Linked DNA regions of Homo sapiens: region 1 is linked to region 2. Evidence: fine-mapped expression QTL. A gene starts in region 2. The other region holds a variant in brackets. All regions are shown on one strand. Distances are between the middles of the regions.

Region 1 (16,099 bases), 71 kb after region 2:
GCGCGTGAGTCACCAACATCTGTGCTTCTTATTTTCCAGAAGGTAAATTAACAACATGTGTCGGCCCCATTAATGAGGCCATTTGTTCCTTTGCAACTTTAAAAACCCTCTGCAGAGTCTCCAGCCTCATGCATTGTTGCCCAGGATTTCCTGTAAGCTCAGATGTTGGAGCAGCCGTGTTCCAGCAAAGGCTACGGGCAGCAGGCCAGCCAGCAGGGTGTGCATGCTGGGATGGTCCCCCGGTGCCAGCCTCGCTGCCCACACGTGGGAACCAGAGGCAGCGGTGGACGCGCTTTTCTCCTTTCTTCAGAAGTGGAGCAATCCCAAGCTTTTTAAAACTTGTAATAAAATGCAGAACCTAAGATTTTCCAGCTTAACTGTGTCTTCACTGTTTTTAAGCACAGTTCAGTGATGTTAAGCACATTTCCAATGTTGTGCAGCCACCGCACCGTCCTCTCCAGAACATCTCATCCTCCCAGGCCGAAGCTCCGTCCCCAGGAAGCACTGACTCCCCACGCCCCCCAGTCCTGCCCTCTCCATTCCGCTTTCTGTCTCTGTGAACCTGGCGACTCTAGGGTCCCCACGGACGTGGGATCAGGCAGGATCTGTCCCTCCGTGACTGGCTTACTTCACTCAGGGGTCGCAGCACTCAGCTTCCATTCCAGAACCCAGCTGGGGCCACGCCCTGGGGGTGAAAGGTGCAGCTGCCAGGACACCAGCTGCAAAGGGGAGGGCGCATCTCACCCAGCTCAGCTGTCATAAGCACACCCAGACCAGGGAGGGAAAGAGACACTCTGGGGAGGGAAGGGGGATGGAGCCGCACCAGCGCGGAACTGGACACCCACTGTGCGGGCGCTGAGCTAGGTACATCACACACAACAGAGCCTCGTGTGCAGTGGAGAGAGCCCAGGCTTGAAGGCAGACACCGGGCCCTCCCCCTGGGCAAGGTGGCCTCCTCTGAGTCCTCCTGGGAAGGAGAGCAGGATCACGCTGGGGCCCAGCCCCCAGTCCGACCCGCCAATATCCACCTCACATAATCCGCTGTAAGGAAGCCCAGTCTCAGGTGGTGCCCTGGGCGGTGGGTCAAGCTCCCTCCCCCCTGCCCCTCCCAGCTGCCAGGAGGCCCCTTGGGCTCAGCTCCCATGGGCTTTGCCCCCTCCAGGCCTCACAGATGCCCCCCGGAGTCCCCCCTTAAAAGCTTCCCAAACACAAGTCCATGCCAGGCTCTGATTCTGGGGAGACCAGAGTAAGACAGACGTCAAGTGAGCAAAGCCGCGTGCGGACTGCACTGCCTTCTGTAAAAAGGAAACCATACCAGGGTCCATGATCTGACAGCCACAGCTGCCTTATGTTATGCAATGGGAAGAAGGAACAATTGCCAAAACTGTTTTAAATGTGATTCTTTACAACTGACAGAATGCGGTATTCTTATGCATTCGTTTTTATACACACAGAGAAATTCAAGAAGGAACTCTGAGATCTCAGGACTGTGGTTACCTGTAGGTGAGGGGGTTACTGGTTCGCCTTTATTTATATACATATATATATATATGACTTTTAAATCTTGTAGGATGCATTACTTATTCAAATATTCAAATTTTGATGCATGATTTATTCAAAACTAAATTTAAAATAAAGTACACTGGCCAGAAGTCATAGCAAAATAGCTCCCCACAGAACACCACGAAAATCACCCAGGTTTCTAAACAGTTCTGTTTCACTGAAGTAAAGTCTCTGCTAATTAGAAAAACACTGATCTTCAGACGCCACTTTGGTTTCCTGATGAGCAGACAAAATTCGGTCAGGGGCCATGGAAGGAGCCGGGAGCGACCGGACCAGGGCGAATCTGCTGTCTGTGCCGGCGGAAGGCCAGTAAGTGCCGTGCAGTCGTGAAAAAGGAAGTGGTTAAAGTGGTTACGGCAAAGCGGTGGCGCCGGCTGCTCCCGACACTGCAGCCCGAGAGGGAGAGAGGAGGACTGAAGGCAGTCCCAGGCCTTGGGTTCCTTCACTGTTCCTGTTCCCTTGGGTTTACCTTTTTTTTTTTTTTTTTTAGATGGAGTCTTGCTCTGTCACCCAGGCTGGAGTACAGTGGCGCGATCTCGGCTCACTGCAACCTCCACCTCCTGGGTTCATGCCATTCTCCTGCCTCAGCCTCCCGAGTAGCTGGGACTACAGGCGCCCGCCACCACGCCCGGCTAATTTTTTGTATTTTAGTAGAGACAGGGTTTCACTGTGTTAGCCAGGATGGTCTCGATCTCGTGACCTCGTGATCCACCCGCTTCAGCCTCCCAAAGTGCTGGGATTACAGGCGTGAGCCACCACACCCGGCCCTGGGTTTACCATTTTAATGCCAAGTAGCAGAGTGCCAAGATGGCAGATGCTGATTGCAGATTATAACTGCAATCTCTCTCTCCTTCTGATTACAACTGAAACTGCACAGAGTGCACTTTGGGAGGCAGAGGCAGGTGGATCACCTGAGGTCAGGAGTTCGAGACTAGCCTGGCTAACATGGTGAAACCCCGTCTCTACTAAAAATACAAAAATTAGCCGGCCGCAGTGGCACGCACCTGTAATCCCAGCTACTCAGGAGGCTGAGGCAGGAGAATGGCTTGAACCTGGGAGGCAGAGGTTGCAGTGAGCTGAGATCGCGCCACAGCACTCCAGCCTGGGTGGCAGAGCAAGACTCCATCTCAAAAAAAAAAAAAAAAAAAACAAAGACTGCCCTTGAAGAATAATTTAGTAACAAATGTCACACGGCACAGAAAGCTGGTCATCTAACTGCCATTCCTTCCTCTGTCACAGCGGGCATGGTGGGGCAGCAAGAGTCCTAATCTCCCCAGCCATGTGCTTTCTGGCTTTAATCTTCTATTTGAGCTTCAGCTCCAGGGCTCACAGTGCCATTCAACCACTTCCATCCAGGTTGACTGTATGAAGGGAACTCACAGCTTCTACACCATAAAAATCACCCTTAAAGAATTGCTATAATACCATTCTTTGTATTAGCCGTGCTTTACTTTTATCTTCTAAAATCTTTTATTAAGGGCCAGGTGCGGTGGCTCACACCTGTAATCCCAGCACTTTGGGAGGCCGAGGCAGGTGGATTGCTTGAGGTCAGGAGTTTGAGGCCTGCCTGGCCAACATGGTGAAACCCTGTCTCTAATAAAAATACAAAAATTAGCTGGGCGTGGTGGTGCATGCCTGTAGTCCCAGCTACTTGGGAGGCTGGGGCAGGAGAACCGCTTGAACCCAGGAGGCGGAGGTTGTAGTAAGCCAAGATCACACAACTGCACTCCAACCTGGGCAACAGAACAAGACTGTCTCAAAAAAAAAAAGAAAGAAAGAAAGAAAGAAAAGGCTGGGCATGGTAGCTCACGCTTGTAATCCCAGCACTTTGGGAGGCCAAGGTGGGCAGATCACCTGAGGTCAGGAGTTTAAGAGCAGCCTGACCAATACAATGAAACCCCATCTCTACTAAAAATACAAAAATTAGCCGAGCGTGGTGGCATGTGCCTGTAATCCCAGCTACTTGGGAGGCTGAGACAGGAGAATCACTTGAACCCAAGAGGTGGAGGTTGCAGTGAGCTGAAATCGCACCATTGCACTCCAGCCTGGGCATCAAGAGTGAAACTCCATCTTAAAAAAAAAAAAGAAAGAAAAGAAATGGGATGGGTAATGGCTCTCGCCTGTAATCCCAGCACCTTGGGAGGCTGAGGCGGGAGGATTGCTTCAGCCCAGGAGGTCAGGCCAGCCTGGGCAGCATAGTGAAACCCTGTGTCTACAAAAATAGAAAAACGAGCCAGGCGTCGGGGCACGCACCTGTGGTCCCAGCTATAGTCTCAGTCCCAGGCTGAGGCAGCAGGATGGCTTGAGCCTGGGAGGTCAAAGTTGCAGTAAGCCATGACTGCACACCTGCACTCCAGCCTGGGTGACAGAGTGAAGCTGTAACTCAAAAGAAATAAAAGAAAGAAAGATAGAAAGTGGTAAAAGAAGGCTCCCAGAGACAACACAGAGACCTGGGCCACAGAGAGCATGAGTGGCTGAGCAGAGACCATCTGCCGTAAGAGGTTAAGCATCAGTCTGTTAATAAATAACAATGGGGTAACCACAGGCCGTGTGGGCCGGGTTCTCCACTTCTTCTTGTCACCATCAAATGAGAAATTTTATTTCTCCAACTCCATCAGTGAGATTGAGGGTGTGCCCTGAAACCTCAGAGAGGAAGACATCTAAATGCTTACACCCACCGGGCATGGTGGCTCACACCTGTAATCCCAGCACTTTGGGGGGCCAAGGAAGGAGGATTGCCTGAGCTCAGGATTTTGAGACTATCCTGGCCAACATGGTGAAACCTCGTCTCTACTAAAAATACAAAAATTAGCGAGGCCTGGTGGGGCATGCCTGTAGTCCCAGCTACTCGGGAGGCTGAGGCAGGAGAATCGCCTGAACCCGGGAGGCAGAGGTTGCAGTGAGCCGAATCGCGCCACTGCACTCCATCCTGGGCGACAGAGCGAGACTCTGTCTCAACCAATCAATCCTAACACCATGCACACAGCAGGCGGATGCTGCAAAAGACAGCCCTGTGGTAGGTAGCCCCAGGCCACGGGAGAACAGGCCTCACCTTGACCACATGCGCGCTCACCCTGTCCACATGCGCGCTCACCCTGCCCACGTGCGTACTCACCCTGCCCACGTACGCACTCACCCTGCCCACGGGCACGCTCACCTTGTCCACGAGCGCGCTCACCCTGCCCACGTGCGCACTCACCGTGCCCACGGGCACGCTCACCTTGTCCACGGGCACGCTCACCCTGCCCACGGGCGCGCTCACCTTGTCCACGTGCGCATGCCAGTACTCGTCGTGCGCCGTCCGCGCTTCCGTGCTGTTTATGCGGGAGAAGAAGGTGGGCTTGGTCAGATGCAGCGAGGATGCGCTGATGCCAAAAGCCTCAGCAATGGTGAGCTGGACCTTCTGCCGCACCTCCCTGCAGAGGACACAATAGCCGTCAGCGCAGCCCCAGGCGGGAGGGGACGCTCGTGGGTCCCAACCCGTGGGTGGCAGGAAAGGAACCAGCCTTCGTACGGCTCCGGGCCCGCGGGGCGGGGGCTCCCAAGCACACCGGGAACAGATACCGGCTCCGCCTGGGAACGACGCGGCCCACAGCCCACGCACAGAGCAGCCAGAGGCAGGCGCAAGACCACAGCAGCAGGACTGGGGAGGCAGAAGGGGGCCTGCAGGACCAACGCTGGGGAGGCTGGTGTGGAGTCAGGCCCCAGATGCCAGAGCCTCCAGGCTTCACTTGCAGGGCCTGGAGCCCAGCCTCCTATTCAGCAACGAAGAGGCTGCTGTCCCCCAACGTGAGTGTGCGGGGTGTGTGGACGTGGGGAGAGGGGAGTGGGTGTCGAGCCTGCTAAGTGTGGATGGGGTGTCTGTACTGGGGACAAAGGGACTCTCGCTCAGAAGACCCCATGTGCCAGGCCAGAGCGGCTCTGAAATGGATGTCTGGGTGGGCATGGGCCCATGTGGGGGGCTCGAGGGGGGTCACTCATGTGTCCTGGGATGGTTGCGTGACTCTTAGCTCCTTTGCCCTCATCTCAACCTGGGCTCCTCCAGCAGAATTTTTTCTTTTCTTTTCTTTTTTTTTTTTTTTTTTGAGATGAGGCTTGTTCTGTCACCCAGGCTGGAGTGCAGTGGTGCAATCTCAGCTCACTGCAACCTCCACCTCCGGGGTTTAAGCAATTGTCCTGCCTCAGCCTCCGGGGTAGCTGGGATTACAGGCACCCGCCACCGCACCCAACTAATTTTTGTACTTTTAGTAAAGATGGGGTTTCACCATGTTGGCTAGGCTGGTCTCGAACTCCTGACCTCAGGTGATCCACCCGCCTCGCCTCCCAAAGTGCTGGGATTACAGGCATGAGACACCGCACCCAGCCTCATCTGGCAGAATTTTTAAAACTGGGCTGATTTTACACAGCAGAAAACAAGAGGTTCTGACCAGGATGCAGCCACAGGATTCCAGATCTGTTTCACCGACCCGGGCGCATCCTGGCCACGCTGGGCCTGCCCCGGCCTTTGCTCCATGAGAACTCACTTCTGCAGGCCTGGCCCTGGCCCCTGGGCCTCTCCGTGGGGCCTCCCCGGACCGGCCAGCTCTGCCACACCCCTCAGCCCCAGGCCACCCCGCCTGCGAACCCCCACCCGCCTCACTCCTCCTTACCGGTATAACCGGAAGTCCTCCTCTGAGAAGATGTTCTGTATTTTATCCCCGAAGTATCTGTGAAAAAAGGAGTATTCACAAAGGTCACAACACTTCATTAATCTGTTGTTCATCTCCTTTCAGTTCAGCCATTCCTCAAGTCCCTGAAAATCAACTCACACATTCAGAGCAACTCCATTTCCACAATGATAACTGCTATAAAGGAGCCGGGCCGGGCGCAGTGGCTCACGCCTGTAATCCCAGCACTCTGGGAGGCCGAGGCAGGTGGATCACCTGAGGTCAGGAATTCGAGACCATCCTGGCCAACATGGCACAACCCCATCTCTACTAAAAATACAAAAATTAGCTGGGCATGGTGGTGCGTGCCTGTAACCCCAGCTACTCAGGAGGCCGAGGCAGGTGGATCACTTGAGGTCAGGAATTCGAGACCATCCTGGCCAACATGGCACAACCCCATCTCTACTAAAAATACAAAAATTAGCTGGGCGTGGTGGTGCGTGCCTGTAATCCCAGCTACTCAGGAGGCTGAGATGGGAAAATTGCTTGAACCCAGGAGGCAGAGTCAAATGAGTCGAAATTGCGCCACTGCACTCCAGCCTAGGCGACAGAGCAAGATTCCATCTCAAAATAATAATAATAATAATAAAAACAAGGAGCCAGCCGGGAGCAAGACCCAGGGCTAATGCATGAGGCTGACACGGATCCACGCAGGGAGGGTCTCTTTGCTCTCCCGGCCCCTCATGGAGCGTCAAAGGCCCCGTTGGATTCTTGGAAGCTGCTCCTGGGAGCCTCCCATCTCTGCTGCCTCTTGCTCCCATCCCTTCTGTCCCTGGGCCCACAAAAACACCAGATTCCCCTAAAGCTTCATGAACAAGCCCCCTGCCCACAGGCTGTGGAGAGTCCACACCTCCCAGCTCTTGCGTCCCAAAGAACCAGGAAGGACCCGGCCAACATCACAGCCACTGAGGCCCTGAGGCTGCACCGAGCCGGATCCTCCCTCACATGTCCACGTGTCCACATGTCCATGGCTAAGAGGCACGGAGCCGCTCACTCGGCTTTCAGAGCCAGCACTGAGGTCATGCTGCAGCACTCACCTGTACAGGTTCACAAAGTGCTTCCCGACAGACAGGGCCCCTGAGTGCAAGTCCAGAATGGATGCCTGGAAAAGACGTTGTGGAGTAAAGCGTGCAGCCGCAGCAATGGCAATGGCTGTTAAAAGTCATGGATGGTAAATGCGAGTTTCCAAGGTCTGGCCAGCACACACCTCAGGTGTTTTTTTGTTTTTGTTTTTGTTTTTTGTAAAAAGGATCTTATTCTGTTGCCCAGGCTAGGGCGCAGTGGCACAATCTCAGCTCATTGCAGCCTCAATATTCCAGGCTCCAGGCCAAACAATCCTCCCACCCTCTGCCTCCCAAGTAAAGGCGCTCGCCACCACACCTGGCTAATTTTTCTATTTTTTGTAGAGATGTGGTCTCACTATATTACCTAGGCTGGTCTCGAACTCCGGGGCTCAAGTGATCCTCCCACCTCAGCCTCCCAAAGTACTGGGATTACAGGCATTAGCCACTGCACCCAGCCTCAACCCAGGACTTTCTTAAAATCCTCCCAGACCGGCCAGACGTGGTGGCTCACACCTGCAATCCCAGCACTTTGGGAGGCTGAGACAGGTGGATTGCTTGAGGCCAGGAGTTCAAAACCAGCCTGGCTAACATGGTGAAACCCCATGTCTACTAAAAATACAAAATTAGCTGGGCATGGTGGCGAGCTGTAATCCCAGCTGTAGCTGGGACACCTACAGAGATAGCCTCCCAAGGAGCTGTAATCCCAGCTACTTGGGAGGCTGAGGCAGGAGAATCACTTGAATCAGGGAGGCGGAGGTTGCAGCGAGCCGAGATCGTGCCATTGCACTCCAGCCTGGGCTACAAGAGCGAAACTCCATCTCAAAAAAAAAAAAAAATCTTCCTGGACCAAACACTTTTGTTCCCTGTGACCTAAAGAATGGTGGCACGTGTGGGCTATTTTTAGTCTGGAGCCATCTCCGTGCAGCTCCGTGCCAGTCACAGTCATGTGTCCCTGTGGGCAAGTGTTGACTTCTCTCGAGTAAATGCCTCACAGCGGTGCTCCCACCTTGGCCTCCTGGGCGGCTGGCACCACAGTGCGCGCCACGCCAAGCCTGAGTCATCACTTTGTAAGCCACTGCTGAAGTGTTTCCTGCCCGACCACCCACCTCTCAGTCCTTCCCTACGTCCTCAGAGGAAGAGGCTTCCAGCCCACGTTAGTCATCCCACCTGTGACCCCAGAGGAGCCCCACTGCTGCCCCTTCCTCATCGCCACAGCCACTGGCCCTGCGGCACTAACCTAGCTTGGGCCCGCTGAACAGTAACTGAACCCAAAGCAGCGGCCCAGCCAGCTCCATGCAGGACAACTTCCCATGTGAACGTGGAGGAGCTGTGAAACAGAAACCTACTCACTCACAGATCTTTAACAAATAGCCCCCGAACTGAACCAAACCAAACTGAAATAAAGGGAGGAACTTAGGCCGGGCACGGTGGTTCACACCTGTAATCCCAGCACTTTGGGGGGTCAAGGCAGGTGGGTCACCTGAGCTCTGGAGTTCAAGACCAGCCTGGCCAACATGGTGAAACCTCATCTCTATTTAAAATGCAAAAATTAGCCGGGCATCATGGCACATGCCTGTAGTCCCAGCTACTCAGGAGGCTAAGGCAGAAGAATGGCTTGAACCCAGGAGTTGGAGGTTGCAGTGAGTGGAGATCGCCCCATTGCACTCCAGCCTGGGCAACAGAGCGAGACTCTGTCTCAAAAAAAGAAGAAAAAAAGGAACTTAATTTTCAGAACTCAAGAGAAAAGA[G/GT]TTTGCAGAAAAAAGTCACACAGACCATCACAGAAATACTTTGAAATTCTCAAAGAGTCTATAAATTAATTTTCTAGAAGTTTCAAATATGCAGAAAGACTCAAGTCTATTCAGTGATTATAATTCAAAGCGATCACCAAATAAACAGAGAGAAACAGATCTTCAGACAATTCCACACACCGAGCAAGAAAACAACCCTGAGGAAACCGCATGGGAATTGGAGCTAACACCAGCTGCACCAGACTGACTCCCAGCCACTGCCCAACAGGAGGGCGAGGCCACAGCCGGCGGTGGCTCCATGATCCCTGCGGCTGTGGTAACACAAACTGGGGCTTTAAAACAACACAAGTTTATTCTCTCACAGTTCTAGAGCCCAGGAGTCTAAAATCGAGGTGTGGGAGGGGCCCTGCTCCCTCCCAGGGCTCCAGGGGAGGTCCTGCCCGCCTCTTCCATGGCCGCACTGCTCCCATCTCTGCCTCCATCATCACAGGACCTTTTCCTCCTCCCTCTCAAATCTCCCCCTGCCTCTGTCTCCTATAGGCACTTGCCATTGGATTTAGGACCCTAAATCTGGGATGATGTCATCTTGAGATCCTTAAGTTAATTACATCTGCAAAGGTCCCTTTTCCAAATCAGATCATGTCCACGGGCTCCAGGTGAACACATTATCCGAGGCCACTAGCTGACCCCCTGCAGCCTCACATGGGACGACAGCCCCACAGGGCGTCCATGGAGGCGTCCAGCTAGGAAGTTGCAGGATGCGTTGCAGCGTGTCTGTCCCACGGAGGCCCTGCTGTTTCCCGGCAGCTCCACGGGCTCTCCTGTGTCCAGCATGCGCAGCCGTCTCCTCGCTGGGCTCCCACCCCGCTCCCTTGCCGGCTCCCTGCTTCCGACCCCCTCTATCCCCCAGTGTGAACTGGAGCCAGGCAGGCCGTGACATGCCATGAATAGATGGCCACGCACATCTAAGGACACACTCTTCCCAACGAGGGGACGCCGCACGGGTTTCAGTCAGGCGCAGCTGCTGCGGCTGGTGCTGAGAAACACCACGGCAGGCCCCACCCACATTTGGGGGCACGCAGGGAACCCTGCATGTCTGTGCCTTCCCCTTCCCATCCAAGTGAGAGCAAAGTTAACGGGTAAAAAAAGGGGGGCAGGGACTACATTCAACTCACCCCTCCGTCAGATCCTCCCAGGGAGAGCCCCTTTTCAGCTACGCTGCAGGGAGAAAATAATTCAGAATTTCGTTGCTAGAATTGTCTATAATGTATAATCTAGGCAAACGTCAATCAGCAAAATTAATGCAACATTAGTGGGTCCTGCGTGTTTAATGTTTATGATGTAAACAAATGTTTAGACCAAAGGACTCAACTTTCAAAGTTCAGTGCGTAAGCGACAATACTGCCATCGTTGTCTTGTCAATATTTGACTCAGCTTAGAAACGACTGGGCTTCAGCACCTTGGGAGGCCAAGGCGGGTGGATCACGAGGTCAGGAGTTCCAGACCAGCCTGGCCAACATGGTGAAACCTCGTCTCAACTAAAAATACAAAAATTAGCCAGCTGTGATGGCAGGTGCCTGTAATCCCAGCTACTCTGGAGGCTGAGCCAGGAGAATCGCTTGAACCCAGAAGGCAGAGGTTGCAGTGAGCCGAGATCGCGCCACTGCACTCCAGCCTGGACAACAAAGCAAGACTCTGTCAAGAAAGAAAGAAAAAGAGAGAGAGAGAGAGAGAGAGAAAGGGAGGGCTGGGCTTAATCTCTCATCTTCAATATCGAAAGCCACCTGGGCCAAGCTCAGGAGCCTGGGGAGCATCTAGGGGAGGGCCCACTGCTCCCCATCTCTCCTGGAACCCCAGGCAGGTGGGGGAAGCTTTGAGATTCACCAGCTCAGGAGATAGGGGCCCTGACCATGGTGGGAGAAAGACACCCACACGCCAGCTGTGCTGGACCACAGAGGACCACCCTGAGCTGCCACAGGTGCTGGGAGCTGCCTGTGGACACCAAGTGGGGACACGCCGGTGCCTCAGTCAGACAGCAGTAACCCCACTGGAGCTAGGCAGCAGTAACCCTGCGTGGAGCTAGGCAGCATCCTCGGGGGCAGGCTCCCTGGGGAGAATCTCAGGGCAGGGCACGTGGCCCAGGGCTGCACACCATTCCACATGCTTATCGTCTCAACAAGTGGTTGGAAAATCAAAACTTTCTTTTAAGATCTCAGTAAGAAAAGTCCAGCACCAGTAGCCTCTGAGTGGCATCCTGTGCTGCCACAAGTCATAGCCAGGTGGGCTGACGGGCTCCCTGGAGGCAGTTTCAGAGCAGACACTGAGCGGTCATTGAGCAGTGTCCCGGAGGCTCCGTGGGGAGCATGGGGCACTCAGCAGCAGCCCCCAGAGGCGGCCACAACCCCTGCAGAGGAACCTGGGCCTCTGGGTACTCTCCCAGCTACTGCTTCGCTGAGGGCCATGGTCTCCTCTCCTGAAATCGGAAAATCTGAGCTTGGCCCTTGAAAGCACATAATTCTTTTTTTTTTTTTTTTTTTTTTTTTTGAGATGGAGTCTCACTCTGTCACCCAGGCTGGAATGCAATGGCTCAATCTCGGCTCACTGCAATCCCTGCCTCCCAGGTTCAAGCAATTCTCCTGTCTCAGCCTCCTGAGTAGCTGGGATTACAGGAGTGTGCCATCACACTCGGCTAATTTTTCATATTTTAGTAGAGACAGGGGTTTCACCATGTTGCCCAGGCTGGTGTCGATCTCCTGAGCTCAGGCAATCCACCCGCCTTGGCCTCCCCAAGTGCTAGGATTACAGGCATGAGCCACCGCACCCAGCCTGGAAATTCTTATAAAATTATAATAAAATCTTTTTTTTTTTTTTGGAGATAGAATCTCGCTCTGTCGCCCAGGATGGAGTGCAGTGGTGCAGTCTTGGCTCACTGCAACCTCTGCCTCCCGGGTTCCAGCGATTCTCCTGCCTCAGCCTCCTGAGTAGCTGGGACTACAGGCACATGCCACCACACCCAGCTAATTTATTGTATTTTAGTAGAGACAGGGTTTCACCATGTTGCCCAGGCTGGTCTCGAACTCCTGAACTCAGGCAATCTGCCCGCCTCAGCCTCCCCAAGTGCTGGGATTACAGGCGTGAGCCACCACGCCTGGCAATAAAATCCTTAAAACCACTTTATTACTAACAATGCTCTGCTTCCCGCCCTAGCCCCACTCCGCGTGTGTTTGTTTGAATCCCACCGTGCTCAGGGACAGGCGGTTACCTGCGAATCCGCTCCGCTTCCTCCCTGGTGATGACGACATCGGTGACACCTCTGCCGCACTTTCGGGGAGTGCAGCCTGTGAAGGGACAGCCAGGGTGAGACGCAGTTTCCAAGGCCACCGGCGCATGCCCTTCCAGGGAATCAGGGCCAGAACTGGCTAATACGCCCGGTCAAATGTGAATTTCAGACACACACAACCACAGCTCTCCAGCGTGCATGCGCTTTGTGCGGTGCATCTGGAGTTCACGTCTCACTGGGCCACCTTGGCTTCCAGTGGCTCCAACTGGAAATTTAATCCAGAGGCACCTGTTGCTGCCCCAAACCCTGGGAAAGTCACAGAAACCCCAGACACGGCGTCAACAGCATTCCTGAACCATCACTGACTGCAGGTCCAGACACCCACAGGCACCGTCAGAAAACCCTTCTGAGACCACCAGAGCAGAAAACCCTCCTGAGACCGCCAGAGAGGAAAACCCTCCTGAGACCACCAGGGAGGAAAACCCTCCTGAGGCCACCAGAGGGGGGAACCCTCCTGAGACCACCAGAGCAGAAAACCCTCCTGAGACCACCAGAGAGGAAGACCCTCCTGGGACCACTGGCGCAGAAAACCCTCCTGAGACCGCCAGAGAGGAAAACCCTCCTGAGACCACTGGAGCAGAAAACCCTCCTGAGACCACCAGAGTGGAGCTTGTGGGTCTAGTCCCAGTCCTTCCCCAGGGCACAGCGAACTGCTCCGCACATGCCCCTGTCTCTCCCCGTACCTTGGTGACCTGCGGAGGCTGAGAGGGAAGAGGAAGCAGCAGCTCAAATGGGGGTCAGGGTGGTCGGGGCAGGGGCAGGGTCGTTGGGACAGGAGCAACACGGTCGGGGCAGGGGCATGGTTATCGGGGCAGGGGCATGGTTATCGGGGCAGGGGCATGGTTATCGGGGCAGGGGCATGGTTATCGGGGCAGGGGCATGGTTATCGGGGCAGGGGCATGGTTATCGGGGCAGGGGCATGGTTATCGGGGCAGGGGCAAGGTCGTTTGGGGCAGCGGCAGTGTCGTTGGGACAGGATCAGAGTGGACAGGAGTCAGGGTCATTGGGCAGAGGAAAGGTGGACAGGGCAGGGGCAGGGTGTTTGGGGCAGGGGCAGGGTGGTCAGACAGGGTTAGGGTGTTTGGGGCAGGGTGGTCAGGGCAGGGGCAGGGTGGTCGAGGCAGCATCGCACAGATGCACAAGGTACAGCAGAGTGTCGGAGAGGGGCCCAGGGACCCGCCCCTGTGGTTTGGTACCAAGTGCAGCTGGCTTCATGCGCTGGAAAGGCGTCAGGCCATGCCTGATCGATCAGACAGCAGCCCACAAGCACCAGGACATGGGGCAAACCGGGACTCCACAATATGCTTTTCCTCCCTCTCCCTACATCCTGCCTAAAAAGCCAGCCCTGAGCCTGGACGTGGAGCATCCCTCCCGGGACCATGGGAATAAAAGCCTCGCACTCAGTGCTGAGTGCCAGCATCAGGGGCTTGGACCCAGGGATCACAAGGCACCGAGATGACCTTGGTTCCTTTCTCTGGGCCTTGTGCCAGGAGATAAACAGAGCTCCACTTGGCTGAATATCAGGGAAGGGGGGCTGTAGTTACTGTGGTTAAATGATCTAATGGACATAGGTGTTGTATTTCAAAAACAAAAAGTCATTTTATGCTTTTTTATAAGGTTTACCCCACAAAACGCGAGGACACAGGAAAGCGGAAAGCAAACAGCAAATGCAATGAGAGCCACACAGGCCCGTGGCGCAGCCTCTGTACTAGCAAAGAGAATCACTAGAGGGAAGAGAGGGTCCCCCGCGGCACAGGAGCGACTCGGCAGGAAGGGGAAGGGGCAGCAGACAGCAGACAGCATCGCCCCATGACACACGTGGCAACCAAAGCACAGACGCTGCTGGGTCCATGCTCAGTGGAGGTTCTGACGCCCCTTTCCATAGCCGGTGGGTGAAGGAGACAGAAACTGGTGATGAGAATTTGTGCACACGAGCGTGGGTCAGGAGAAATACCCACAACGTTGTGAAAAGGGACCAAAAATCCCACGCATTTCCAAATCTTTTAAATTTCCAAGTAATTCATGAGTTAAAAAACAATAATAATAAAAATTAGAGGCCAGGCGCAGTGGCTCATGCCTGTAACCCCAGGGCCTTAGGAGGCCAAGGCAGGTGGATCACCTGAGGTCAGCAGTTTGAGATCAGCCTGGGCAACATAGGCAAAACACCGTCTCTACTAAAATTACAAAAATTAGCCAGACATGGTGGCAGGTGCCTGTAGTCCCAGCTACTCAGGAGGCTGAGGCAGGAGAATCACTTGAACCCAAGAGGCCTGGCGGAGGTTGCAGTGAGCCGAGATCATGCCACTGCACTCCAGCCTGGGCAACACAGTGAGTGACACTCTGTCCAAAAAAAAAAAAAAGAAGAAAGAAAGAAAAAGAAAATACATCAAACCATTTGTTTTATTGTAAAATATATACAAGATAGAATTTACCATTTTAGCCAAGCTTTTTAAAAAGTGCGCAGTGTGGTGGCATCGGGCACAATAGCATCGTGCAGCCGTCACTAGCACCACCTCCAGAACTTTTCCACCTCCCACAGGTGAAATCCCAAATCTATTAAACATGGACTTCCATCCTCCCTCCCTCATTCCAACTTTTTTCTTTTTTGGCGGGGGGTCAGGATCTCGCTCTGTCACCCAGGCTGGAGTGCGGTGGCACACTCTAGGTTCACTGCAGCCCTGACCTCCTTACCTCCCAACCTCCTGGGTTCAAGTGATTCTTCCACCTCTGCCTCCTGAGCTGGGGTTACAGGCGTGCACCACCACACCTGGCCCATTTTTTATTTTGTAGAGATGGGGTCTCACTGTGTTTCCCAGTCTGGTCTTGAACTCTTGGCCTCAAGCGATCCTCCTGCCTGGGCCTCCCAAAGTGCTGGGATTGAGGATGAGCCACTGCTCCAGGCCATTGAAACTATTTTTAATGTCGATAAATTATTAATGATAACATGAAAAATTTCTGCTCCGTGCTAGCATTCAAAAAAGAGTTTTGGAAAGCTGGGATGTTAGAGAGAGAACTTCTGCTAAGAAAGAGAGAGCACCCACAACAACACACAACAGAAACACGTTCATTTTCTTGACTCCGAGGCGGTCCCGTCCCTCCCTGCGGCGCGGCTGGGACCACGTTCACGTGCGTCACAACGGCGCCCCTTTGTGGAAGAACTTGGCAATCTTTTCTTGGTTCAAGTGCAAAGCATTGAATTGAATTTTTAAAACCTGAATTCTGCCTCAAAAACCCAGCGGCGCATGCTGGACTTTTAAAACTAAGAATATATCCAGGTGGCATGGAATGTTCAAGAAAACAGAAGCGACAGGAGGCCTACAGGGGGTGTGCGGTGGCCGGCCCGGTCAGACCTGCTCCGAGGCCGTGCGCTCTCCAAGGTGCTGAACCCCGGCCCGGCCAACCGCAGCGCTGCTCCAGGCTCTGGGCTGCCCTGGAACCACCACCTCCCGCATCTCTCAGGCCCAGGCAGAACGGGAGCGGGGGAGGGGAGCTGGGGCACAGGACGGCAGAAGGGCTGCTGGTCGTTTCTTGTTACATTTTCCCCAACATTCTCTGACTCTACCACATTCTCCAGTCAAAAAATCTTTCTGGTTTTGACTTTCTCATCCCTATCTTTCCAAGGCAAACCATCTCCTCCGCTGGACCGCACAGCTTACTAAAACGCCAACCGTGGCCGGG
Region 2 (16,099 bases):
ATTTTCCGTCTACCTAGGAGCATGTGTTTGATATCACTGCACACCCAGGGCACAGAGCTTCGGCATTACAATTCTTGGAGCGTGTCTGTCTCCTCGTGGGTCCTGTCCAGACCTCCAGTCACTCACAGAGACCCTCACATGACCAGCACCCAGGGTCCGACTCCCCCAGCCAAGCCCAGCGCTGACCACAACCTGCAGCCAGCGGCCCCCCCAGCCCGTCCACCAGCCCCCCCACCCTGCCCGTCCACCGGCCTCCCCAGCCTGTCCATCAGCCTCCCCGGCCTGTCCACCAGCCCCCCCACCACCCTGCCCGTCCACCAGCCCCCCTCCCGGGGCAGCACTCAGTTGCGTTCCTTTCGAATCCATCGTTTACACCTCTGTGTGTTCCTAATGCGCAAGTCAGCTTTACCTCTGCTGCTCTCACTGGCAAGGCAGGCTGCTGGGCAGCTTCCAGCAGGCGAGCCTCCTTGTGCCATCTTGTCTCAGGCCTGCAAACACTAGGGGCCCCCTAGCTGTGTGGCTCCTCTCCCGCCAGGCAGAGGCGGCTCCAGGGCACACACCCACGGTGCTGGGGGAGGGCCCCACAGGCAGTGATGAGCCTCTCACAGGCCCCAGCGAGGTCGCCGCTTCTGTGCTTCCCACGGGGTCCCCACTCATGCCCTGCATACAGGAGGTGCTGGATCCGTGTGGATCTGGATCCCCTGAGAGTGGCTGGGGGATGAGGGTCCCTGTGTGGAAGCTCCACAAAGCCCCACCTGCCTCCACGCAGGAGCTCAGCCTTGCACAGGAGACTACCCTAACCTAACCCCAACCCTAACTCAGTCAGTCCCGCCGGTGGGGTCTGGGCCGATGCCTGGGCTGGTCAAAGGTCAGGCCCTCACGTGGACCAGGTGACGTGCTTTTGCATGAACCTGTTGACGTTCCTGCTGGACTTTGAAAGGGACCAGGGAAGGGAAAGTGAGGGGAGGCAGCCTGGGTCTGTTCCAGGTGGGGCAGCGGGTAAGGCCCAGCAGGAGCCCTGGCAGGACACGCCTTTCAGCCGAGAGAACTCCACCTTCGAAGGCGGCTGGGGCAAGGGTTCGTGGCCAGGCTGCCCTGCCTCTCGGGTGCCTGCACCCCTGCTAGGAAAAGTCCCTAGGTAGGGCGGCAACTCCAGCCCTGCCTCTCCCAGCTCCCAGTGCAGCCCACACGCCGGAGTGCAGATGACCTGCAGGGAACTCCCATGAGGGAACTCTGTAAAGCGACCTTCAGACGTGCTATTTATAGATGTCTATAGATTTATAGATGTGTGTTTCTCCAAACAAATAAACCACCAGAAAGTGTCACAGCAGGACACGTCACCAACCCCGGGGACCCCATGTTACCAGGGGTCCTCCTGGAGCCTGGAGTCTGGGCCTGCTGAGGACCTGGCTTGCAGACGGGCTCCGGCCTTCTCGTCCCATTGCCCCAAGCGCTCCAACCCCCTGTGAACATGCCTCTAGTCATCCCTGGGCCCTGCACAGCCACAGGCAGCCACCCGGTCATTCCCATACTCTCACCATGGTCCTGCCTCCACGTGGAAGACCCTGCCAGCCGCAGAGTGCAGGTGTGGGGACACTGTCACTGCTGGGAGGCACGTCACCAACCCCGAGGTGCTGCTGAGGCTCAGGGATGGTCCCACATTGGCGCAGGCTGCGGGTGCCGTGTCCTGAGGTCTGGGTTCCCCACTCCAGGCAGCCGCTATGCTCAGTACAAGTCCAGTCCCTTCTGTTGGAAACCCCACCCCACCCTGTCAGGGCTGAGTGCAAGGGGAGGGAACCCACACCTGAGACCTTTTGTGGCCCCTCACTAACACCCCCTTTCCTGCTGTGACCCCTCAGGGCTGCTCAGATGGGCTTGGAGACAGGCTCGGGCCCCATCTCCCATCATACGTCCAGCATTCTAGATTAGCTGGAAGTCCGACGGGGTCTCCCTGGGTTAAAATCAAGGGGTGGGTCAGGGTGGTCCCTTCTGGAGGCTCCAGGCGGAATCTGTCCCTCTCCGTCTCCAGCGTCCAGAGGCATCCGCATCCCTCGGCTCATGGCCCCTCTGCCATCTCCCCACCACTGCCCCCCAGCTGCTTCCCTCATCTCCCTGACTCCCCCTCCTCTCTCCCTCTCCTGGAGACCCTGTGATGGCATCAAGGGCCCCCCTGGGTGACCCAGGACACATGCCCCAGCTCAGCACCCGAGGCTTCATCCCATCTGCATAGTCTCTTTGCCATGTCAGGTTCTGGGATGAGGACGTGACATCTTTGGGGACTGGTAGCCGACCACAGAACCCCCACCCCCAGTGCGGTGGGAGACCCAGGCCACCTGCAGACCCCTGCATGGAGGTGAGGTTCACACAAGGAGACCCCAGGGGGCCTGGGTCCGGCTCCCTCACCCCACGCTCCACGATGCCAGCTCAGCCACCCACCTTGGAACCGTGCAGATGGACAGCAGGGAGGGTCGGGGCTGCTGGGGGCTCCCCCACTGCTCTCCGCACCACCCCGCCGACCGTGTCCGGGAGGGGATGCCCTGCTGCTCTCCCCAGGCTGCTCTGGGGAGTCCTGCCCTCACCTGGAGCCTGGAGGCCATCTGAGTCTGTTTCACAAATGCTTCCAGGGACTGCCCCTGCCATGTGTTAGGGGTGGGAATTCTGGGCACACAGCCAAAGGTCACAGATCCCCAGAGAGCCCCGACAGCGCTGCGTCCACCCCACCTGCCCACCCAGGTGCTGGCTCTGCCACCCGTCTGTGTCCTGAGTCAGCCCTGACTCGGCAGAGAGCTGCACCCTGAGCCAGACCTCAGCAGCTGGGTCCTGGAGGCCCCCAAGGGCCAGCTGCACGCACCTGGCTTCATGCCAAGCTCCTCCCGCCTGGCAGTGGCTGCATCTGCCTCCCCTCCACCCTGAGTGTCCCAAGTCTGCCCGCTGTGCATTCCATGGGGCCAGCAGCTCGGTGGAGCCTCTGCTCTCGGGGGCTACAGCTGCTCCTAGATGCCTCTGCCACCGAGGGTGGACCCTGCAGTGCTGGCTCCTAGCCTCCCTGCCGATTGCTTCCTGAAGACCTGGGGCCCTGGGCTGCAGTGGTTGGGGAGAGGGGGGTGGGAGTGAGAAGCTGGCACTGTCCGTCTTTCTGGCCTCATCCTCTCCATGGTCTCAGCCCCTGGCGGCCTGGACTGCACCGTTCCGGAGATGCTGCCTCCCCACCAAGTCCCTTTAGCCCAACTGTGGTGGCGGCCGCTGCTTCTCACACGCGGGTCCTCTCACTGCCTCTCCCCGGTCCTCCCTTCCTCCCAGCACCTTCACCAGCTCCCCACTGAGTGCCCTCCAATGTTGGCGACCCTGACCCTTGTCCAGCCAGGGGTGAAGGGCGGCAAGGGATGGGCTGGAGGGTACTAGGAGCAGGTGGCGGTGCCCTTCCTGTCGGTCCACACCCGGCAAGTGGCGGGAAAGGTGTGGAATGAGTCAGCCGTGGAGGGGAGCCCTGGGCCTGGAAGACCCCTGTCTTTGGCTTGAGAATGACTTTGAAGGGCTCAGGGGGTAGGGAGCTGGGGGGAGACCGGGAGGAGAGCGGCAGGTCTGGCTCTACCCCGAGGCTTCAGGCTGCGGACCATGCGTGGCCCCAGCTCTGTCTGGGCAGCAGGTGTCAGCGACTTTGGGTTGCTGTGGGAATTTGCTCCGTTTATCAGAAGAAAACGCACCCTGGCAACACAGGCCCCTCTCAGGTCACCAGGCACATCTGGTCACATCTGAGTCTCAGATAAACAACCAATGATGTCCTGGTGAAAGCTTGTCCCGTGGGACACTCGGGACACACTTATATTAAAACACGATTAACGATCTCAAACTCAGATGTTACTGGGTATCCTGCGTTTTTGTTGGCAGCTCTGCCACTCTGCCCGTCTGCCTGAGTCCTCTCCTGCCATCCTCCTGACCAGAGGCGTGGGCTTGAGTTGAATGCCACGCAGTGGCTAAAAATCAGAGAGAGGGCAGGCGGCAGGGCGCGGCCCCAGGGAAAGTGGCCAGGTGGGCGGTGACTGGCCGGGCAGCTCCGTGTGTGGCACAGGGAGACCTGGCACAGGGAGACCAGGTACAGGGAGACGAGGCGCACGGAGCCTCAAAACTTCTAGAGTGGGCCGGGCGCGGTGGCGCATGCCTGCAATCCCAGCACTTTGGGAGGCTGAGGCAGGTGGATCACCTGAGGTCGGGAGTTTGAGACCAGTCTGAACAACGTGGTGAAACCCCGTCTCTACTAAAAATACAAAAAAATTAGCCGGGCGTGGTGGTGCACGCCTGTAATCCCAGTTACTTGGGAGGCTGAGGCAGGAGAATCGCTTGAACCAGGGAGGTGGAGGTTGTGGTGAGCCAAGATCTGGCCACTACATTCCAGCCTGGGCAACAAGAGCGAAACTCCGTCTCAAACCAAACAAAACAAAAAACAAACTTCTAGAGCGGGAAAAGATGGAGGCGGCAATCAGATTTCTCTCAAACCACGAACACAGGGGTCGGTATCTGAGGCGCCGGCACCAGACACGGCAGGGTCTGAGTGCTCCCTGACAAGCGATGATGCGCAGGCTTGGAGCCATGCCAGTGACACGCCTAGGAAAGTTCACGCACCGCCCAGCACGCCTGCGCATGCCTGTTCCCGCTCCCTGGTGCCCCGGGCGCCTGCCTGTCCCGGCTCCCATGGGTGCTGGGTGTGTGGAAGCTCCGGCCCCCTCGGGCTGGGTTCATTGGGGTCCTCCTGTGTGGTCAGTGGACTCTGTACCCCCACAGCACCTGAGGGGTGGCTGACACTGCTTTCCCAGCTGCTGCAGGGGCTCAGGGAACACAGGTGACCCCACGTCTCTACCGAGAATGAGCACACCAACACCTCTCAGAAGACAGCTGCAGCCTGCAGAGGCCATGGACCCCACCCAGGCCCACGGTGTGGACGGCTCTGCCCTGGTCTCTGCTGAGCCAGGCCCAGAGGGGACCCCAGGTGAGCAGCAAAGCCCCCCAGGCCTGGGGCTAGACCGGGCTAACCCTTCCTGCTCAGCACCTGTTCACCTGTCCCCTCTGCTGGTGGCCTCCTGTCCTCCCGCTCTGGGCTCAGCAGCAGCCCCGTGGAGAGGCCCTGCCACCACCCCCGCCCTGCTGGAGACAGGCCTCCTACGCGGGCTCCTGCAGCCGGTCGCCCTGGGCCTCCTAGAAGCCGGGGATCCTCTGCTGACCACCGGCAGAAAACGTGCTTCTCAAGCTGCAGGTGATTCACCAGTAGTGGGCAAGGAACTGAATGTGGTGATTACTGCGGAGTCAGCAAAACCCGCGTGAGAACGGGCAGCTGAGGGCCTGCCGGGTGAGGGAAGCCTCACGGTTCCTGTTTCATGAGTTTGCTGTGAGTGCACACGAGGCTGTGGCTGTGGAGTGTGCAACAGTCCACGCGTGCCTGCGTGTGCTCATGTGCGTGTGTCCACCAGCTTGTGTGCACGCATATGAGCGAGTGCGTTTTGCTCCCAGCTTGGTCGCAGCGACGGCGCAGGGAACCCCGGGTGAGGCCGAGGACCGGGAAGGGAGGAGGGGGCTCCGACCCATCGGACTTAGGGGAGCCCCGGGTCCGAGACGCCGCCTCTGTCCCTTCAAGAGTCGAGCCTGGCGCACAGGGCAGGGACGCGGGTCCCCACACCGGCCGGCAGCTCGTTCCCGCCCATACTCGGGTACGCCCGCTGCGACCCCGCCCGCCTGGCCTGCGACGCACGCTCAGGGCCAGCGGGGGGTGACGGTCCCAGAGGCAGAGGCGCCGCAGCCCCAGAGTCCCCATCCCTGCGCGGACCGGCAACCCCAGTGCACCAAGAGGCCCTAACACCGAGCCCCCAGCACCGAGTCCCCAGCACCGGGCCCTCAGCACCGAGTCCCCAGCACCGAGTCCCCAGCACCGAGTCCCCAGCACCGAGCCCGCCCCTCTGGTTCCCCCGCCCGCCCCTCTCCGCGCCTCACCGGGTCCGCTCCTGGACGCGCTCCTCTGGGATGCAGCTTCTCCGCGCCCCGGAGCCCCAGGAAAATGAAAGACACGAGAGGGAGGGGCCAGGGAGGAGGCGGCGGACCCGCGCGGGACCCACCTCCCAGATGAGGAAGGAGCTGGGTTTACGGGAAGCCTCCAAGTTTCGGGAACCACCCGCGTTCACAACAAGCGTGACGGTGAATTTATTATTTTCACGGGAGGCACCGCACCCGCGGTTCACGCTAAAGGAAGCAGGAAAGCCGCCGGGAGCATTTTTCCAGGAGAGTTCGTGCCTGGGCGGGTCCAGCTCGCGTGCGGCGCGCGTTCCCCGCGGGGCTGTTTGGCTCCGCTCCTGGAGGCCTCGAGTCTGTGCACGGGGCGAGCTGGGCGGGCCGAGTGGGCCGCGGGGAGGGAGGGCGGGGGGCGGCCCCCAGATGCCTGGGAGTGCGCGGGCAGAGTGAGCTGGACCCCCGGAGGGTCAGAGGCCCTTTCATAAAAGCGCGCAGAGCAGAGGAGTGATGTCCCCCAGCTCCCCCGCAGAGGGTCCTGCACCTGCGGCCTGGGCCTTCAGGCGTCCTGCGGCCCCTGCGGAGGTGCTGGCCTGGCCAGCCCGGGAGGAGGGGCCCAGCCTGTTGGGGCAGGAGATTGGGGTGCGGGTAGAAGGCTCCAAGACGCATCCGGGCCGGGAACCCACAGACATCCCAGGTGGGCAGGAGGTGGCTCGAGGAGGCCTGGAGGACCCGGCGCCTGGCGGGGTGGCAGGCGGGCCACGTCCTCCACTAGAACCCGAGGGGGCACGCGGGCAGGTGCGGGCGGGGTCAAGGATGACCAGGTATCTTCGGGACACTAGGAGGAGGCCCCACAGGCTGCAGTCACGTGAGTGGGCAAGTCCCCACCGGGCAGATGATGGGGGACACTGGGGCGTGGGCAATGCCCCCAGTTTCATGGAAGAGAGGAAGAAGCAGAACCAAACTCCGGGAAACCCTCAAATGTGGGGAATGGACGGAGCAGGGCCAGACTGGACGCTGAACCTTGGAGCCTGCAGCTCAGCCATCAGACCCAGGGTCCAGAGGTGGGTGGCACAGAACAAAGTCCCCCGGGATGTTCCAAAAGAGAAACTGTCGCCAAATTGGCAGGTGAAACACAGCCTGTCATCCTCCCAGCAAGACGGCACCATGGCCGGGGCACAGAGGTCAGATTCCCCAGCCCCCGCCCTCGGGGAAACCCCAGCCACCCTGGCTGCCAGTGAGATGCTGGAGAGGGGGCTGAAATCCCACCTGCCCACGTCCTCTGCACAGAGGGGCTTGTCCCCGAGGCCACATCCCCCAGCAGCCACAGCTTCCTTCTCCTTTTTTCCTGCCTACTAGATCTCTCAACTCAGAGGGGGCTGCAGTTCCTGGGGGCAGGGGGGTCCGGCTGCTTAGGCAGGAGCACCTGCACCGTGAGGCTCTGGAGGGCAGCTGAAGGCTGGCAGGCTTTTGTCCCGTGAGGGGACACCACTGGGGGTTGGAGGAAAACGCATATCCTGATAAAGCATTTCATGTTGTGAAAGTGAAACTAGTTTGTTTATTTTGGAAGTAATACAGGCACAGAAACAAAATAGAATGAAACCAACTGTTGCCTTTTCCTCCCCACCCTGGCTTCAATTCCCAGGTTGAGTTATGGACACTGCCTTACCTATCCTTCTAGAAGTTTTCCTGGTCCATACAAACAGCACAGCCATCCACTCACGTTTATTTCTTTCTTTTTTTTGAGACGGAGTCTCTGTTGCCCAGGCTGGAGTGCAGTGCTGCAGTCTCGATCACTGCAACCTCTGCCTCCCAGGTTCAACTGATTCTCCCACCTCAGCCTTCTGAGTAGTTGGGATTGCAGGCATGTATCACCACGCCCAGCTAATTTTTGTAGTTTTAGTAGAAATAGGATTTCATCATGTTGGCCAAGCTGGTCTCGAACTCCTGACCTCAGGTGGTCCGCCTGCCTTGGCCTCCCAAAGTGCTGGGGTTACAGGTGTGAGCCACCACATCTGGGCAGTATCTTTCCATTTCTTTTTTTTGTTTTGAGACGGAGTCTCGCTCTGTCGCCCAGGCTGGAGTGCAGTGGCGCAATCTCGGCTCACTGCAAGCTCTGCCTCCTGGGTTCACACCATTCTCCTGCCTCAGCCTCCTGAGTAGCTGGGACTACAGGCGCCCGCCACCACGCCCAGCTAATTTTTCTGTATTTTTAGTAGAGACGGGGTTTCACCGTGTTAGCCAGGATGGTCTGGATCTCCTGACCTTGTGATCCGCCCATCTTGGCCTCCCAAAGTGCTGGATTACAGGCGTGAGCCACTGCACCCGGCCGTATCTTTCCATTTCTATACAATGCTGGGATCAGGCATCTTAGAGCGGATGTGTGGATTCATTCACCCTCAGCCTGTCCTTGAATCACAGCCTCTGCTGTGCCAGGTGACATGTGGAGTTTCATTTCCTTTCTGTTCGAGGAATTTGTAGATTTCAGTTATGATTTTCTGTTTAACTCTCCAAATTATTCGGCAGCATATTCTTAAAATCCCCAAGGTCCTGGAGCATTTGCTTTTCTTTTTTTTGGAGACAGAGTCTTGCTCTGTCGCCCAGGCTGGAGTGCAGTGGTGCGATTTCGGCTCACTGCAACCTCCGCCTCCCTAGTTCAAGCGATTCTCCTACCTCAGCCTCCTGAGTAGCTGGAACTACAGGCACGTGCCGCCACGCCCAGCTTTTATTTATTTATTTATTTTATTTTTGGTAGAGACGGGTTTCACTATGTTAGCCAGGCTTTTTTTTTCTTGAACTCCTGAGCTCAGGCAATCCACCCGCCTCGGCCTCCCAAAGTGCTGGGATTACAGGCGTGAGCCACTGTGCTGGCGGCATTTGCTTTTCTTTGTAACTTGATTCTCTGGGTTCCCTTGCCTTTCATCCTTGCCCACCCACGTGACTGCAGCCTGTGGGGCTTCCTCCTAATGTCCCGAAGATAACTCGTCATCCTTGACCCCGCCGCCACCTCGGGTTCTAGTGGAGGATGTGGCCCGCCTGCCACCCCCACAGGCACCGGGTCCTCCAGGCCTCCTTGACCCACTTCCAACCCACCTGGGATGTCTGCGCGTTACCAGCCCAGATGCCTCTTGGAGCCTTCCACCTGCACCCCATCTCCTGTCCCAACAGGCTGGGCCCCTCCTCCCGGGCTGGCCAAGCCAGTACCTCCGCAGGGGCCGCAGGTGCAGCACCCTCTGTGGGGGAGCTAGGGGGATCGCTCCTCTGCTCTGCGCACTTTTATGAAAGGGCCTCTGACCCTCCCACTGTCCTGCTCACTCTGCCCGCGCACCCCCGGCCACCTGGGGGCCGCCCCCCAAAGCCCTCGGCCCGTGGACAGACTCGCAGCCTCCTGGGAGCCGAGCCAACCGGCCCCACAGATTTGTGCATGACTCAGTTGTACCCACTGCTCACTGGCTGGAAGGGTCTCACGGGTCCTTCCAACATGTAATATTCTCTGACTGTTGGGAGCAAGGGTCTCTGCAGGTGTCCCTCCTGTCAAGGTGTCAGTGGGGTAGGTTAGGTCTTTTATATACTTGTCAATTTTTTTTTTTTAAGACGGAGTCTCGCTCTGTCGCCCAGGCTGGAGTGCAGTGGCACGATCTCAGCTCACTGCAAGCTCCGCCTCTCGGGTTCACGCCATTCTCCTGCCTCAGCCTCCCCAGCAGCTGGGACTACAGGCGCCCGCCACCACGCCCAGCTAATTTTTTGTATTTTTATATACTTGTCAATTTGTATGGGCTTGAGCTATCAGTAATTAAGAGAGATAGGTTGGAATGGCCTCCTATGGTGGGGGCTTAGCAGCCTCTTCTTGTGGTTCTAGGAATTTTTAATCATATATTTGGAGGCTTTTTTTTTTTAAGAGATGGGGTCTCCTGTAGTTGACCAGGCTGGCTTGCAGTGGCTGTTCACTGGCAGGATCGTAGCTCAATGTACCCTGACCTTCTGGGCTCAAGCGATCCTCCAGCCTCAGCTTTCTGAGTAGCTGGCACCACAGGCAGGCACCACAGATAAAAAGTCTAAAATGTTTGCTTCAGTCTTTGTCGTTTTGTTGCTCTTGTTCTTGTCTTGTGCTAACCTAATTCTAATTTATCTATTTTATAATATTCGGAAGTTTTAAAATATGAGGCTAATTTTAAATTCTTACCCAGCATGTGTTTCTGCTTTTGGTGGAATCCACAACCCAGCTTGTTATTTTCCACCTGAAAAGGCTGTGCTCCTCGAACATCCAGTTATGTTGCCCTGAGCCCCTTCACTTGCCAATCTTCTTGGTATTTCTTTTGGGATTTCACTGTCTTTATAGCTTCACTTTATTTTAATTCTATTTATTTATTTATTTGGGGGGGATGGAGTCTCACTATGTTGCCCAGGCTGGAGTGCAATGGCACGATCTCACCTCACGCAACCTCCACCACCCGGGTTCAAGTAATTCTCCTGCCTCAATCTCCCTAGTAGCTGAGATTAGAGGCGTGCACCTGGCTAATTTTTGTATTTTTAGTAGAGACGGGGTTTTGCCGTGTTGGCCAGGCTGGTCTCTAACTCCTGACCTCATAATCTACCCACCTTGGCCTCCCAAAGTGCTGGGATTACAGGCGTGAGCCACCGTGCCCAGCTGTTATAGCTTAATTTTAGAAAGAATGGCATTTTTAGGGCTGGGTGCGATGGCTCATGCCTGTAATCCTAGCACTCTGGGAGGCTGAAGTGAGACAATCTCTTGAGGCCAGGAATTTGAGACCAGCTTGGACAACACAGTGAGACCCATCTTCACAAAAATAAAATAATGAGCCGGGCGTGGTGGCCAGTGCCTGTAGCCCCAGCTACTTGGGAGGCTGAGGTAGGAGGATCTCTTGAGCCTGGGAGGTCGAGGCTGCATTGAACCGAGATCAGGCCACTGCACTGTAGCCTGAGCAACAGAGCGAGACCCTGCCTCAAAGAGAGAGAGAGAGAGAGAGAAAGAGAGAAAGAGAAAATACTTTTAATAGTAATCCTTCCTAGCCAATGAGATAGGAATGCTGGGTGGTCATAGGAGAAATGAGAAATATCAAACAGTAATCTTGCAGAAAAGCAAGAAAGCAGCTGTTAGAATGAGCCACAGAAAGCAACTGTTAGAATGAGCCACGGAAAGCAGCTGTTAGAATGAGCCATGGAAAGCAGCTGTTAGAATGAGCCACGGAAAGCAGCTGTTAGAATGAGCCACAAAGGCAGGGATGAGCCCGGACTGATGAGACCCTCGACCCCACAAGCAGGAGAGGCTACGTTGGAGGAGGCTGGCCGGATCCACCGTGGCACTAGGCTTGACCTGTGCCCACCCCAGACCTAATTGCACACTGACTGCCATTCACAATCACGTACACACCAGCGTCACGGCAGATCCAACCATGCCCATATTTAGTATAAAAATATCTGGCACCCCAATTCTAAGAAATCGTCACCTTTTTCCTAGAAAATCTAATGATTATTCCACCCTCTAACTAGGAAAGCCCATAAAATAGAAACTCAGGCCTCGTTGTGTGTGACTCACTCTCGGAGCACGCCCGTGCCTCTCCTGTGCGCAGGCATTCACTTCACAATAAAAGCTTCTTGCCTTTTGTCTCATTCCTACTCATCCCGAATTCTTCCTCATGATGGTGTCAAGAACCTGGACACCGGCTGGCACTGGGGCTGGCATCTCGCCGGCATCTGCAGACCCTTCTCAGTCCTCCGGCCACAGAGCTGCTGCTTTCCGTCTGACTTAAGCGTCATGGCCGTGCCTGTCCCGGCCAGGAATCCTGTCAATGGCCGTGCCCAGCCCTGCTTGCTCTGCGGAGCCCTGGACTCAGGGGAGCCTCCAATGTGCCCCCAGGACGGTGCTCCGTGCAGGAGGAGTGGTCTGACCACATTCTACTCTCTCCCCTTGGCTGCCTGCCCCTTGATTCCTGGAATTCCCAGAGAATCAGGACGCTGTTCCCGGGAAGACTCTAACCACCAGCAAATGCCCAGGTCCGAGGGTGCCCAAGGTCGCAGGTCCTGGATCTGAAGCTTCCTGGAGATGCCTCCTCCAGCCTCATGGGGAGAGGAGGGAGGGTTCCCAAAGACACCCAAGAGTGAGGATCTGGTTCTGGGCTGCTGGAGAGGAGACGCCTCTGGGAGACCCCCCCAGAGTCCCTGTGCCCCCAAAAGCCCTGCCCCCAACCCCTCCCCCAGTGCTTCTCTGTGCCCTCTCACCAGTGCCTCCCCCAGTGTCCTCTCCCCCCAGTGCCCTCCCCCAGTGCCCTCCCCTGGTATCCTCTCCCCCGTGCCCTCCCCCAGTGCCCTCTACCTTGCCCTCCCCCAAGTGCCCTCCCCTGGTGTCCTCTCCCCCTCTGCCCTCCCCCAGTACCCTCCCCCATGCCCTCCCCCAATGCCCTCTCCCCCAGTGCCCTCCCCCCAGTGCCTTCTTCCCCTGTGCCCTCCCCCCATGTCCTTCCCCCACACCCTCTTCCCCTGTGTCCTCCCTCTGTGCCCTCTTCCCCTGTGCCCTCCCCAGTGCCCTCCCCTGTGTTCTTCCCCAGTGCCCTCTTCCCCATGCCCTCCCCCTGTGCCCTCCCCCCAGTGCCTTCTTCCCCTGTGCCCTCCCCCCATGTCCTTCCCCCACACCCTCTTCCCGTGTCCTCCCTCTGTGCCTCTTCCCCTGTACCCTCCCCCAGTGCCCTCCCCAGCTTCCTCACACCCAGTTCCCCCATGCTGAGAGGCTGTCAGTGATGGAGGTTTGGGGTGGCATTAGACCACCTCCCAGGAAGGGCGAGGAAGCATTTCTGTAACATCAGAATGCGGCAGCAGAACTTCCCTGAGGAGCCGCTGCCCAGAAGAGCTTCCCCCTGACGGTCTTTCTAGGATGAGATTGTCCCGCACCTGCCTCCCCATCTCCTGTCTCGGTTAAATCCCTCTCCGAGGGCATGGGAATGATAGTTGTCTTTGTTCAGCGTATCCGAGATTTTTTTTTTTTTTTTTTGAGACAGAGTCTGGCTCTGTCACCCAGGCTGGAGTGCAGTGGCGTGATCTCGGCTCACTGCAACCTCCACTTCCTGGGTTCACACCATTCTCTTGCCTCAGCCTCCCGAGTCGCTGGAACTACAGGCGCCCGCCACCACGCCCGGCTAATTTTTTGTATTTTTAGTAGAGACGGGGTTTCACCGTGTTAGCCAGGATGGTCTCAATCTCCTGACCTTGTGATCTGCCCGCCTCGGCTTCCCAAAGTGCTGGGATTACAGGCATGAGCCACCACGCCTGGCCAAGAAAAATGGATTCTTATTGCACTGATGCAACCAACTGTATCACCATAAGAGTACTCACAAATAGTTTCCAAATTCTAGAGGAACCAGGGAGAGAAACAAACATGCTCCAAATTTTGTTCACAGGAGAGTACCTTGCTCAATTATTAAAGGCCGTGAACAGTTCAAGTTTCTTTGACTCTGAAAAACAAAACAAGGATCAGCAATATTCTAAAAGGTGCTTTCTGAGGGCCGTCCATTTAGTTCACTTTTTTTTTTGAGATGGAGTCTCGCTCTGTCCCCCAGGCTGGAGTGCAGTGGTGTGACCTCAGCTCACTGCAAGCTCCACCTCCTGGGTTCACACCATTCTCCAGCCTCAGCTTCCTCAGCCTGTAGCTGGGACTACAGGCGCCCGTCACCATGCCCGGCTAATTTTTTGTATTTTCAGTACAGATGGGGTTTCACCGTGTTAGCCAGGATGGTCTCAATCTCCTGACCTCATGATCCACCCACCTTGGCCTCCCAAAGTGCTGGGATTAAAGGCGTGAGCCACCACGCCTGGCCTAGTTAACTCTTGTTTTGCTTGAGATTCATGAACATTTCAGTTCTTTGTGAGTCCTGTATGTTTTTCCTCTATTCAAAAAAAAAAAAAAAAAAAAAGGGCCAGACATGGTGGCTCACACCTGTAATCCCAGCACTTTGGGAGGCTCAGGTGGGCAGATCACTTGAAATCAAGAGTTTGAGACCAGCCTGGCCAACATGGTAAAACACCATCTCTACTAAAAATACAAAAATTAGCCAGGCGTGGTGGTGCACACCTGTAATCCCAGCTACTTGGGAGGCTGAGGCAGGAGAATCACTTGAACCCAGGAGGCTGCAGTGAGCTGTGACTGTGCCACTGCACTCCAGCCTGGGCAACAGGGCGAGACTCTGTCTCAAAAACGTTCCAGGGCCTAATCTTGAGATAGACAGACCAACCCTGGAAACTCAGCGGCAAAATTCCAGAGGTTTCCCCCAGGCAGCAAGTCAGCCACCCAGCCGTTGATCAGATGACCCCAGCCTGCGCTCCAAGTGTACTGGGACCCAAGATAGCCACTGAGGACAGACACACAGACCTTGTACCCAGCACGGCGCCGGCACGCCTCCCACGCCAGCTTCCCCGTGACAAGCCCCTGCCTTCTCCCTAGGAATTTGAAGTGGTTGCTTTGGACGGGAATGCGGCCCCTTGCCCATGACTAGTTTCGGATAATAAAGTCACTTTCTTTCAACCAGGCCTCCCTCTTGATTACTGGACTCTGCAAGTGGTGAGGAACGGAACTTGCGTTCGGTTACAATTTTGGTGGCCCGTGTGGGGAACGTTGTGTGCTTTGGGGGGCCCAAGCCTGCCCATCTGGTTTCTGTTGGGCAGGGCGTAGGTTCACCTGTGAGTTCCAGCTGCTCCTGGCTGCTGCGCCTGTGGCTGGAATGGGAGGAGCTGCCCCGTGGCCGCCGAGATGCTTTCGTCCGGGAATCCTGTCCTTCTCTTCCTGCTGCCTTCAACGCTTTGCTGGTGCAAAGGAAGTGACCTTTGGAGAAGTTAATAAACTTTGGAACTGGGTGCCTTAGTTGGAGTTCACCCAGGGACCCTCTGCCTCTTTGGGGTGTGGCTGAGGCCCTCCTCTGTTTAGACTTGGCTGTGAGTGACACCAGTTGGGCATTTGATACATTTGAATTCGTTTGTGTTTGTGGCACCCTAGGGCCTCTGCTCAGTGCGGGTTCAGTCGCCCGAGGGGCCGTTTGAAACCGAGCCCCTTAAAGGAGGTTTTTTGGACGCAGCTGTTGGTTTGTGCGCATGAGTGTGTGCACCCTGACCTCTCTCTCCTTCCTCCAACGTCCTCCTCCCGTCCGCCACCAAAGCGTTATTCCTCTTGGTCAAAAGCACCCTTAGCTCCCTGTGGCTGCGAACAGCTGACCTTGACAGGTGATCTGCGGAGGTGGGAGGGATTCATCCCACACCGCGCAGGTCTGGGGTGCGGAGGCTTTCCCTGATGGGAGATGATCAAGGGTGAGGGGGTGCTGGCCCCGCACCACGCAGTGGCTGGAGGCTCGCCAGCCTCCCTCCTTCCTTTCTTGTTTCTCCTCCCTGCTGCAAACCTTTCTCCTCCGCTTTCCTTTCTTTTCTATTTTCCTGTTCAATCCAGGGGCCCAGCCCAAAAAGGGAAAAACAGTTTCCAACATCCCGGCCCCTGATTTTGTCGTCCTCTTAGGGACTCCAGCTGGTTACATATTACAGCCCATTGTGCATGTTTTAAGCTGACGGGCAAATGACAGCGAGGAAAATTCAGACCTCCAGTGGTGAACCTGTGCTGTGGTTAAGCAGTGTTCTAAGGTGCTCTCTGGTCCTCTCTTTTCTTTCTTGCTTTAAACCTGCTGTTACTAAGCTGCTGGTGCGAAGACTCGTTATTTACGGTCTAACTAGAATGTAAACGTTGGAAACTCATTTGAAACTAAAGAGAAAGAGGGTAAAACAATTTTTTTTGTTTCGTTTTGTCTTGTTTTATAAAACCAAACTGCCACAGAGATTGCTTTACCCAAATTTTGGTTCAAGTTCTCTCCTTGGATGACCTATCAGGCGACAAGGGTTAGCCAGGTAAGCAGGTTCCAGTCTGTCAGAACAGCCACCTGCAGCCAGCTGGCTCCTATAGGCCCATGAGTTTGTGACACTTTACCATTGCCATGCCAACACCCAGATGTTACTGCCCCTTTCCATGGCAATGACCCAGAAGTACCACCCCTTTTCTAGGAAATTCTGAATGCCCCACCTCTTAATTTGCATGTAGTTAAAAGTGGGTATAAATGTGACG

What was found. PIP is the estimated chance that this variant, and not a neighbour inherited with it, causes the effect. A credible set is the group of variants that fine-mapping cannot tell apart.
Region 1: its variant is the best candidate, but not a certain one, in a credible set for the expression of SECTM1 in whole blood (TOPMed, PIP 0.66).

The regions. Positions count from the first base shown.
Region 1 is chr17:82,399,112-82,415,210 of GRCh38, forward strand. It overlaps OGFOD3 (2-oxoglutarate and iron dependent oxygenase domain containing 3), which reads right to left. Exons shown (of 9, transcript NM_024648.3): 3 at 12,344-12,419; 4 at 10,257-10,299; 5 at 7,307-7,371; 6 at 6,213-6,269; 7 at 4,826-4,979. It overlaps LOC124904090 (a long non-coding RNA gene), which reads left to right. Exons shown (of 3, transcript XR_007065956.1): 3 at 1-362. Among named protein-coding and RNA genes, the nearest start is that of HEXD, 11 kb to the right of the region's middle. RefSeq lists enhancers at 287-893, 1,624-1,823. The variant G/GT (reference allele first, on the strand shown) is at 9,082.
Region 2 is chr17:82,327,721-82,343,819 of GRCh38, forward strand. It overlaps SECTM1 (secreted and transmembrane 1), which reads right to left and starts at 6,046. Exons shown (of 5, transcript NM_003004.3): 1 at 5,980-6,046. RefSeq lists a silencer at 4,389-4,673 and enhancers at 4,550-5,352, 7,400-7,469.